3 linked regions of the Homo sapiens genome follow. The protein of the gene in region 2 interacts with the protein of the main gene of each other region in a pairwise test. Each region holds a gene or a part of one and is shown on either strand. Other genes may lie near its edges.

What was found.
Region 1: the proteins of CHAF1B (region 2) and ZNF879 interact in a two-hybrid assay, tested with the Homo sapiens proteins (one large-scale study listed by BioGRID and IntAct).
Region 3: the proteins of CHAF1B (region 2) and CUX1 interact in a two-hybrid assay, tested with the Homo sapiens proteins (one large-scale study listed by BioGRID and IntAct).

What each region holds. Positions count from the first base shown.
Region 1 is NC_000005.10:179,026,668-179,030,316, forward strand, and holds part of ZNF879 (zinc finger protein 879), read left to right. Parts: intron 1-805; coding exon 806-932; intron 933-1,364; coding exon 1,365-1,460; intron 1,461-3,649.
Region 2 is NC_000021.9:36,402,310-36,405,958, forward strand, and holds part of CHAF1B (chromatin assembly factor 1 subunit B), read left to right. Parts: intron 1-448; coding exon 449-542; intron 543-3,649. UniProt on the Homo sapiens protein: Acts as a component of the histone chaperone complex chromatin assembly factor 1 (CAF-1), which assembles histone octamers onto DNA during replication and repair.
Region 3 is NC_000007.14:102,254,521-102,258,777, forward strand, and holds the end of CUX1 (Homeobox protein cut-like 1), read left to right. Parts: 3' UTR 1-3,713; downstream 3,714-4,257. UniProt on the Homo sapiens protein: May be involved in intra-Golgi retrograde transport.

The sequences.
Region 1 (3,649 bases), on a different chromosome or scaffold from region 2:
TTGCAGAGATGAGGTCTCTCTATGTTGCCCAGGCCGGTCTTGAACTTCTGGGCTCAAGTAATCCTCCTTTCTCGGCCTCCCAAAGTGCTGGGATTATAGGCGTAAGCCACTGTGCCCAGCCAAGAAGATGACTCTCAAGAAGGGGAGATGGCCCTAGTTCAGAGCAGTAACATGCCATCCAGTGAAGGAGGAGAGAGATAGAAGAACAGGAGCTTCTGGGGTGGGGAGGGAGACTACTGACCATAGCCTTCTCCTCTGGCTTGAAAGGTTATGTAGCCCACCACCTGGGACCTCTCCTGACACAGCCATGCCTGGAACATTCTCATAGCCTTCCCTACTGTGAATGTCAGTGTCATCTTTCCCAGGACTCATAGAGATGGCCCGAGTTGAGGCAGAACTAGGACTCAGTGACCGCCTTTCCCAGCAAGCCTGGTGGTGTTCCACCTATATCTCCCTCAGTGAATGTGCTGGTGCCTCCTTCCGAAACCTGACTGTCAGGTGTGACCTGTAAGATGAGGGTTTGGTCTAGGTGATCGGACGTTTCCAAATCTAAAGTTCAGTGTTTTCTTGCTCTGATTTTGTTTCATGGGTTCAAGTGCTTCTCTTGGTTGGCCTCTGTGTTCAAGCTTCCTGAGGGGACGGTGTTTCACTCACCATAGGTAAATGATAAATGTGTGCTTGGTAACTGAAAAGTTGTCCAGAAACACTTGAAATACTTAGAACCCTAAGTTGTGACAGGGTTGCTTCTCAGTCTTCTCGTTGTGGGGACAGTCCTGGATGAACAGGAGTGGGTTTGCCATTCCAGGAGTCCGTGACGTTCAGGGATGTGGCCGTGTTCTTCAGCCAGGACGAGTGGTTGCACCTGGACTCTGCCCAGAGAGCCTTGTACCGGGAGGTGATGCTGGAGAACTACAGCATCCTGGTCTCACTGGGTAAGGAACTTTCCTCCTGATGCAGAATCTGCCAGGAGAGCACCTTAGCACCCTCAGGGGGCACATTTGGAGGGCTTGGCCAGGTCGGCTCACAGGTGGGCTCCAAGAGTGGCCATTGCCATTCCCCTTGGTTGTATGGAGAGACCTTGGCTTAGTAGAGTTGATGAAGGGGTCTTTTCTCTGCTTTTCCTGTCTTCTGCCCACTGAGCTCTGTTCCCTGAGCCCCACAGGGTGTTCCTGCTGAGAGGAGTGCACAACCAGAGCCCTGACTTTCTTCCTGGGACCATCTCCTGGTTGTCCTCTAGGAGCCCAGTTTGAAGCCTCTCAGAACAAACCTCCTCCTTCCCTGTACTGCCCCTCTGCCCTGGGCACTCTGGGGCTGGACCCGCCTGCTACGATGGCCGCTCACGTTTCTTTCTTGTTCATGAACAGGGATTCTCTTTTCCAAGCCAAAGGTCATCTCCCAGTTAGAGCAAGGAGAAGACCCCTGGATGGTGGAGAGTGGAGTTCCCCAAGGCGCACATCTCGGTGAGTGACAGAGTAATTGGGAGATGGGCATAACATTTTCCCACTGCCAGGGCACAGCGAGGAGGCTGCGCTCAAGGGTCTCCTTGATGTGCCAGGCCAGGGGGAAATGCTGGGAAGGTAGATCCTTTCTCTTTTGATTACTTGATCCATCATGTTCAGAGGAGGGTTGAATTCTCCCAATATGGGTTGCACTGTTTTCAGATATCTTGTAATTTGCAGAATATGTAATACAGTATATCATGTGTAAAGGTTTATAATTCTTTTATCTTCCTTTATCCTTGCTTTTACTGGATTGATTCTTTTCCTAAATTATTTTCCTTAGTGGCTTGAACATTACATTGTTTTTTTTTAATCACTACAATACATTCCTCATAGTTTCATCTTGGAACCATCTTTTGCTTTGATTTCTTTGGTGTACAACTTAATTATACATGGTTCAAAAGGGGGAAAAAAGCAGATATATGTGTATGTATTTACATACATGAAAGAGGGAAAGAAGGTGTGACAAACGGTAACAGTTACGGAATGTGAGTGGGCTTCCGGATACTCATCACGCTATTCTTCTCTTTTCTGTGAAAATTTAGAAAATAATGCATCCCAGATCCCAGCTCCTAAGGCATGTCACTTTTTCCCTATACGCCCTTGGATGACTGCATTATCAGCTTCCGCATTCATTCTCCTGTGAATTCTGTCTATGCTTCTGGCAGTAGAGGAGGCCTCTGTTGAGCTTTACCACGTGTCTGGTGTTTTTTTCTCACCTGGGCAGGGCGTGGGCTTTCTGGGCCAGTTCACTTTTGCGTTTCCATTCGTGAACTCTGTCTTCACATTTTTCCCTTTGGCTCGACTAGAATATTTTCTTGGGTAACGGTTTTCAAAAAAGGTTCATGTGTGCAATATCTGTACGTGTCAAAAATCAGTTGTTTTTTTCTCTCCTCTGAGATTTGTTGTTTTGGATCTAGAATTCTGGCATCTGTTTTTTTTTTTTTTTTTCCTCTCTGCATTGTCCAAACTGCTCCACTGTCTTTGGGCATGGAGTGCTGCTGACAAATAATCCCATTAGTCAGATTCTATTTCCTGTATAGGTAACTTGTTTTTTCTTTTCTGTCTTCTCTTTGGAATCTTACAGGACATCATCTTTATCTTTGGAATTCAGACTTTTCATTAGGTTATATGAAAGAGTATTTTTTTTTCTTTGTTCTTTGGCACTTTACTGGCCTCTTTGCTTTGAAGATTCAGTCCTTCCTTTCATTTCAGGGATCTTTTGTTTCTGCCACATTCCACCAACAATGTGAGGCAATTGACTGCAAGAGTAGTGATACAATAAAATAGAAATTCAATCAGACATCTAGAAAATAAATAGATCTGTAGTAAGGACCAGAATGGTAGCTATAAATGAGTTTCAAATTTCGCTCTGAGCTTTCTGGTTGGCAAATAAATCATTGGTATCACATTGTCAGTGTTGTTTTACAAGCATTTTTAAAAATTAATTATTTTAAATTTGTACAAATTCTACATGCTGTTGTAAAAATAGGAGCAAAAAAAAGTCACCTGGAATTTTACCAACTATGATCAATTATTGTTGTTTATTACCCATTCAAACTGCATATTTGCTTAAATGTGTTTGTGTGTGAGAGACAGACACAGTGAGAGAGAGATACAGAAAGATTGATTATACAGTTTGTTCTTGATCCTGTTTTAATTGTGAATGTCATTCAGTTATTCAGCCCTCAGTGAATAGAGGCCTACCTCATTGAGAGGACTATATTGTATGTTAAGCCAATTAAACAGTCTTCCTTTTGGAAATTTTAGTTACCAGTTTTTCTCTGTTACTAATATTGCTAAGATGGTTATGGGAATACAAAGCCATAATATAAAGAGGCAAAGGTACCAAGAGTAAATCATCACAGTACAAAGACATGAGTATTGTGATTGAAAAGGCCAGGCATGTGGATTAAAAATCCACAAGGGATTTTTTGAAGCACTATTCAACTTCATTAAATTAAAATCAATGAAATTCCAACGAAGCACAAGTTACCATTTTTCCCTTATTACCAAGGATTAAGAAATAGATACCCAATGTGTTGCCACTGCTGTGAGTGATAAGCAGTATCGTTAGTGGGACTGCAACTGGTAGTCTTTCTGAGGATGGTCTGGTTTTATTAAAATCAATTCCAAGTGTAGAAATGTTA
Region 2 (3,649 bases):
TCTAAAGAGTGCATTCAGTTGGAAATTCTAATGAATCCACACAGATAGAAAGCAGAGGTCTCCTGGTCATCTTCCCACTGTCTGCCAGTCTCAGGCCCCAGACATGCCACTATTGACCCTGTGGTTTGTGTTCTTAAGAGTTTTTAAAAATAATTTTAGAACCACATAAAACACACATATATACATATAGCTTTACCTAACAAAAATGTGTGGTCAGTTTTCATGAATGTTTACCCTTGCAGTGTTGTACAATTATTTGATTTGTAATGTGTTTCAGTTTCATTTATGATTATGTCAACAATAAATGACACTATGTAAAGAAAACCATAGGCACATATAGCAGTTGGGAAGCGTTTATTTGTGAGTGTAAAGATTTGGAAAAATGTTTAAGCTTTGTGTGTAGAAAACAAACAAAAAAAATAATAAAAATAAATTTTGTGTGCGACAGGCAAGAAGCTACCGGATGTTTCACGACGACAGCATGAAGTCTTTCTTCCGTAGACTGAGTTTCACTCCCGACGGATCTTTGCTTCTCACGCCAGGTGTGTTTCGTAGCTTTGGACTTAAAGGAATGATGGCCGAGTGGGGATGTCTGCTCCCGTTTTACGCTGCAGCTTATCAGCTCAGTGAATGCTGATTAGAGTGGGGGTCCCCGACTTACCTGCCCATTGGAACCTCCAGGAGAGCTTCAAAAAACACATTGGTGCCTATGTCCCATCCCTAGAGATTGTAGTGTATGTAATTGGTCTGGGTGGCCTGGCTTTTGGAATTTTAAGAAGATTTCCAAGTGATTGTAATGTGCAGAAAAGTTTGGGAGTAATGAGTTTAAAATGATAGGCATTTTCTCTTAGATAAATTTAACTTTTGGCTGGGCACAGTGGATCACACCTGTAATCCCAGCACTTTGGGAGGCTGAGGCGGGCGGATCACTTGAGGTCAAGAGTTCATGACCAGCCTGGCCAACATGGTGAAACACCCTCTCTATTAAAAATACAAAAATTAATGATGTGGTGGCGCATACCCTGTAATCCCAGCCACTTGGGAGACTGCGGCAGGAGAATCGCTTGAACCCAGGAGGCAGAGGGTGCAGTGAGCCGAGATCACACCACTGTACTCCAGCCTGGGCGACAGAGTGATATCTTATCTAAAAAAAAAAAAAAAAAAAAAAAAAGAAACTTTACTATTTAAACCCTTTCAATGAATGCTTTTTCATTCATTAACATGTGTATGGAAGCCATAGCGCTAAAGCCAAAGATAAAGCTCCTTTATTGTTTTTATTCTCCTCAATAAAGCGCATTTGTGACAGGATTAGACTCATGGACAAACTTGTGGAAGCAGCAGTGGTCAAAATCAAAAGGTCAGCCAAGTAGCAAGGACTAGATAGGTTTATTGTCCCTATGTCCCTAGGAAGGCAAGGGGCTCAGCCCAGCAAGATAAGGCTAGGCATTATTGTGGCCACAGTGTTCTCAGAGGAGAATGTCTGCTCATTGCCGTGGCTCCAGGACCATCCTGTGCATAGAGATGACAACATAGCCCAGGGTTGGGCCAAACGGGAGGGCACTGTCTTGGTTTGCCACTGAGTCCCATCCCAGCTGAGCCAGGGAGGGCCTGAGAAGGGCGTGAATCACACATGCAGCTGTGTGGGTGGGGCTTTAAAGAACACTGCGGAACATGTGCGAATGACACTTTGGCCCAAGAAGTCTCAGGACTAAGAATAAGTAGTTGTTTAGGTTATATTTACTAAAGTTAGTTATTAAAAGTTATTCACTAAACCCAGTAATAAATCCTTTTTTTTTTTTTTTTTTTTGAGACTGAGTTTTGCCCTGTTGCCCAGCTGGAGTGCAGTGGCACGATCTTGGCTCACCACTGCAGCCTCCGCCTCCCAGTTTCAAGCGATTCTCCTGCCTCAGCCTCCTGAGTAGCTGGGATTACAGGTGTGCGCCACCACTCCCAGCTAATTTTTGTATTTTTAGTAGAGACGGGGTTTCACCATGTTGGTCAGGCTGGTCTCAAACTCCTGACCTTGTGATCCGCCTGCCTTGGCCTCCGAAAGTGCTGGGATTACAGGCTTGAGCCACCACGCCCGGCCCTTTTTTTTTTTTTAAATTATTTATTTTATTTATTTATTAATTTATTTATTTTGAGATGGAGTTTCGCTCTTGTTACCCAGGCTGGAGTGCAATGGCACGATCTCGGCTCACAGCAACCTCCGCCTCCCGGGTTCAAGCCATTCTCCTGCCTCAGCCTCCGGAGTAGCTGGGATTACAGGCATGCGCCACCACGCCCAGCTAATTTTGTATTTTTAGTAGAGACGGGGTTTCTCCATGTTGGTCAGTCTGGTCTCGAACTCCGGACCTCAGGTGATCTGCCCACCTTGGCCTCCCAAAGTGCTGGGATTATAGGTGTGAGCCATTGCGCTGGCCTTTTTTTTTTTTTTTTTTTTTTTTTTTAAAAAGCAGAGTCTCGCTCTGTCACCCAGGCTGGAGTGCAGTGGCACCATCTTGGCTCACTGTAGCCTCCACCTCCTGGGTTCAAGCGATTCTCCTGCCTCAGCCTCCTGAGTAGCTGAGATTACAGGCGCCTGCCACCACAACCAGATAATTTTTGTATTTTTAGTAGAGATGGGGTTTCGCCATGTTGGCCAGGCTGGTCCCAAACTCCTGACCTCAGGTGATCTGCCCACCTTGGCCTCCCAAAGTGTTGGGATTACAGGTTACAGGTGTGAGCCACTGCGCCCAGCCCCAGTAGCAAATCCTTTACTATTTGGCCACTCTAAAAATATTTTCAATTAAAATCAAGTAGCAAATGGATGTCTGTTATCAACGTTATTGTTCTTTGTGGTGTTAGTAAGTGTGGGAAAAACAGGAAAATGAAATTACAAAGATTGGAAAAGAACAGATAAAAAACTGCAATAGGATTGTATTTCTAGAAAATCCAAGAGATTTTAAAAATAGTATTAGAATTTTTAAAATAATTTGATAAGATGGCTGGATATTATAAAATATATAAAAATTCCTATCTTTCGTCTATATTGGCAGTGAGTACTTAGAAATGGAAGGAGGAGAAATATTTCATTCAGAGTAGTGCAAAACCTGCAAAATACATAGAGTAAATTTATTTATTTATTTATTTTTTGAGACAGGGTCTCACTCTGTCACCCAGGCTGGAGTACAGTGGTGTGATCATGGCCCACTGCATCAGCCTTGATCTCCTGAGTTCAGGGAATCCTCCCACCTCAGCCTCCCTACTAGCTGGGACCACAGGCGTGTAGCACCATGCCTGGCTAATTTTCTTATTTTTTTGTAGAGACATGGTCTTGCTATGTTGCCCAGGCTGGTCTTAAACTCCTGGGCTCAAGCACCCCTTCCGCCTCGGCCTCCCAAAGAGCTGGGATTACAGGTGTGAGCCACCACACCCAGGCAGAAGTAAATTTAATGAGAAAGGGGCAGGACCTTTATGGAGAAGTCTAGAAGGTCTTACTGAAGGTTATAAAGCAAGTTCTGAACAAATGGAAAGATATGTCGTGTTCTAACAATTAACATACTAATTTCATTTCCAATTAGAATTGCATTAAAGTTTTTTTTTAATTGGATGAAATCTCAGCTTTGTTTAGTAGAATAAATGCTGAAGAATAGCCAAAGAAGTATTA
Region 3 (4,257 bases), on a different chromosome or scaffold from region 2:
CCTGGGGCTGGTGGTTGGAGGTGGGTCTGTCCACTGTGGGGGCCAAAGTGTTCCCCTGCTGGAGACAGTTTGCAAGTAAGAACCTAAGGATGGGGACAGCATCCTGTGCTTGGGCATTGACCAGCCAAAGCTCACATTTAGAAAGCCCTCAGTGCTTCTGTGGTTTCACCTGGGCATCGACGACATTAGGGAAGCCTTTGTGACCACAAGGGCAGGGCTTGTGCCCTGAGTGGCGAGGTGGTGACCTGAGGCCAGTGTGATGTGGTTGGATCTCAGCGTGTACTGAATGCCAGTCTGGCCGGCACACTCGAACGCTAAGAGAATGGTCCAATTTGATGATCTTATTTCTATTTCGATCAGGTTTTGACTTTTTGTAGATGAAAACTACCAGGGAAAAGGGGAAGCAGGTACCCAATAAAGTTTAGAAAGATCCAGTCTGTGAAACCCTTAGAGATGGGCTGAAAGTTAAGTCCACCAACCCTTGGGCTTAATCAGGACGGAAGAGGAGGGGGTGTGGGGGGCAGAGCGTAAAACAAGCCCCAGCCCTACTCCCGGCCCCCCAGCCCAGTCTTCCCAATCCCAGAGGCCCCGGCGGCCTGTGCTCCTCACCACCCTGGTCAGGGGAATAGAAGGAAATGCAATTTCCGCCTGTCTGCCCGACTTCCAAAAACTGCCTCCTCCTGCCCAGGCCTCTCCCACCACCACCTTCCCTCCAAAGATAACCGTGTCCATGCCATCCGTGGCATCATCTCGAGTTTTCATTTTTGGATGAAGTGACATTTAGCTTTAACAAGACATTTCCAAAGCGCCTAGTCTCCTCCAAAATGCTAACTTTAAAAGTTGGGCATTGTAGGCGAAAAATCCCAAAAAAAAAAAAAGACAAAAAAAAAAGGCTGGCGAGAGAAAGACATTTGGCTATGCATAAATGTGCACTTCCCCCATGCCCCCGTTCTTAAACTCTTAAGATGCCTTTGAGTTGCTTTTCATGAATCCTTTTAGTTTACCCGATAATGTTAAGAAAGCATTAGTCTACGTTACTGTAATTTCTGTAGTGTTTACGCTTTAATTTCTACCACAAAATATGCTATATGCTATGTATCAAGCTTTCTGTAATCAGAAAGAAAAGGTGCCTTATATCCCAATGTCACGGCTACATCCCTATGGAAATTAATCAGAAGCACAGTGTGTACGGAAGCATTGGGACTTCTGCTGGTGAAACAAGAGACCATTCAGCAAGACACATTGAAGTGGCACGGAGCTGCTTTTGTTTTATAATTCTTTTTTCCCCCCTTTTCCTTCTTCTTTTTTATTATTTTATTATTTTTTTTGTACTTTGCTTTAAACGGAAAGCACTTAAATAGATGACTATGTGTAAAAGCTCTGTGCAATTGAAATCATTTTTCTTCATTTTAAAAAAATAACGTATTGCACACCAAATGAACTCAAAGTAAGCTTTAGACCAGGACGATTCAGGTTATGAATGAGTTTGTTCACTGTAGTTCCGTTTGTTCATGAACCGAAGGGAAAACAGGCCTCCCCGACTCCCTCCAGTCTCCCAGCCTGCCTCTTGGTGACCACTGTGCTGGGCGTGCAGGGCCCGCGGGCTCTGGCCGGAGCCGCTGGCCTGACGAGGCAGGATAGGGAGTATCCGTGATTCAGAAGCTGAGACCCTTCCCCAGTGTCTGAGGCCACAGCCATCCCTTCCAGCACTTAATCTTGTCTTGTTGAAATGGACTGACTGCTACTGACCTGCCGGCGTGCGTGAGGGTGATTATAAAAGGATGTTTCCTTGAGAAAAAAAAAATTATTTCTATCCTCTTCTATTTATTATTAGGTTAATCATTTAAGTACTTATCAGGAGTGTATTGTTATTTTGTGTTTTGTTGTCATAAATGCTTTTTGCTGTCACTCTAGTGGTTACTATCCTCTGCCTTCCTCTCCTCCCCTACTCCCCCAGAGAACCAAGGCGTCTGGGGGATTGACTGGGGGGCAGAGGGGGTTTCCCCAGCAAAATCAAACACCTGTCTCCAGAGTAGCCACTCAAAAACTGGTGGTCTCTATGTGTCTAACTTTTTAAATGAGAGTGTTTATGAACAAAAAAATTTACCAACGTGTGAGGGAGTTGCTGAGTTGAAGAATGCTCGCTTGAGGAGCTTCAGAGGAATCTTAGCAAAGCCAAGTTCAGTTCCCCAAAGCCTCCTAGAGCCTCTGGTAAGACTTCTGGGTTCATGAAGTTTCGGCGAGCCGTGGTCAGAGAGGGCGCGGTGGCCTGGCCAAGACTTTACCTCCAAGCGAGAGAGTGATTTCTTGCAAGGCCCGCATGGGTTGATACGTTTTGGTTGGTTTTTTGTTGTTGTTTTTCTTGCGTACAAAGTTGGTCAAAACCATCTTTCAAAGCAACAGTGTTTTGTAGTACCAGGCTGTGGCTTGAGGGCTCACCTAGGAGATCATAGGCAGAGGGCCCCTTTCCCCTATAGGTGGTTCAACGTGGAGGAAGGTTGGGTGTGGAGATTGCTTGCTGTGGCCCCAAGCTCAGCCAGCAGGACACCCAGTTGTTGCCAATCAGGTGTGAAGGTGAGGCGCCCTGCCTTGATCCCATGGGCCCAGCAGAAGGAAACTTACCCCAGGCCAAGGCAAGGGCCCTGCTCACCCCAAGGTAGGCTGGGAAGAGCATCTCTTTCCATATCATCACCTCCCCTTCTCCAAGATTGCCGGGGGCCCTGATTTTGTTCTCTCTTTGAAAGAAACCCTCCACCGAAACAATGGTCCCCATCTCCCCAGAAGCCTTTTTTTTTTTCATTTTTCTCTAATTAGTCTATGCATTTCTCTCTCTCAAACCATCTTCTGCCTCTTCCCTTGAGAAAACGGGCATCTCACGTACCCCCATCTGAGACCTCTTGGAAAAAAAAAATCCCGTGTATTCTGGAGATGTGAGAATTCACCCAAAATTCTTAAAACATTGGAGAATAGCTTGTTATAAAATAAAAGTGGGGGTAAAAAGAAGGTGGTTTTCCCCACATCCCTTTGCATTGAATAAGAGACCTAGTTCTTTGCGTTTGTGCAATAACTCTTTGCTGCTTGCCTTGAGAGCGGGTAGCACCACGCTCCTGTCCAGACTACTAACAGCACAAGACGCACTCACAGGGTGGCGGAATCTTCCGGAAAACTCTCTATAAGCTCAGCTCCCCCCACCCCACCCCCACTCTAGCGTTTTGTCACGTCTTACATTTTAGCAGTATTTTATATTTTCTGTAACGCACCAAGTCTTAGATCTTTCTAGAGCTTGTTTGTTCATCCTCACAATCACAGATTTTTTTCTCCAATCCTCACAGAGACCCAATTGACCAAAAAAGAAAAAAGGAAAAAAAAAAAGTCGTCTTTTTTTTTTTTTTTTGTACAAATCGCTTTGAGATGCCTCTGGTGTGTTGCTGTGTGACATCTCTCTGGTAACATTTTATTTCTTGCTATTTGTTTTTCTACATTAAGAGTCAAAGTTGACCTGGCTGGCGTGGGGGTGGGGGAGGCACCCGTCGGCCCCTTGGTGTTGTCCCTCTGTCTTTGGTTAGCCATACGATGTTTGTTCTCAGCACTGTACAACGGTCCCTATATAATACGGAGAAGCAATATCACTGTATGAGACTCACACCATGTATTATTATTCACTAGCACCCTAGGTGTGATAATTGAAGTAAATATCTTTTATACAAACACAAGAATGTGTGGGTTGTTTTTATTTAAAGTGCTCTGGCCTGAGGACGAGCAGCAAACACTGTCATTCGAGGTCCAAAGGGCACCTCAAGAATCGCCGTTCCCGAGGTCGTCCCCTTTGCACCTGTCCGCAGGTCCTCGGGCGTGTGGCTTCCGGGCACACAGAAAACCGTGTGGTTCTAGGATACATGGGGATCTCGGGCACTGCTCTGTCAATCTGCATCTGGTTCACAGGAAGGGCTTCGCCAGGGCCTGCGTTCCTACTTGCTGTTGTCACCAGCACTGTTTGCCTACCCTTGAACCAAGCCCTTACCCTCCCTGGCGTCCGCTTCCTTTTCTGTAAAATGGAGACACCATCTCCTGTCATATAGGCTTGCTGTGGGGAACCAGGAATGGTGGCCAGTGCTGGTGCGGCACTGGGCTGGTGGTGGCAGCCCCAATCGATGGCACTTGGGCGACCAGGACTACGGCCAGTCTCCTCTGCCGTGTGGCCTGCAGCTGGTCAGTGGCGTGGCCTCAGCCTTCTGTGTGGGGGTCTCACTGTGCCCC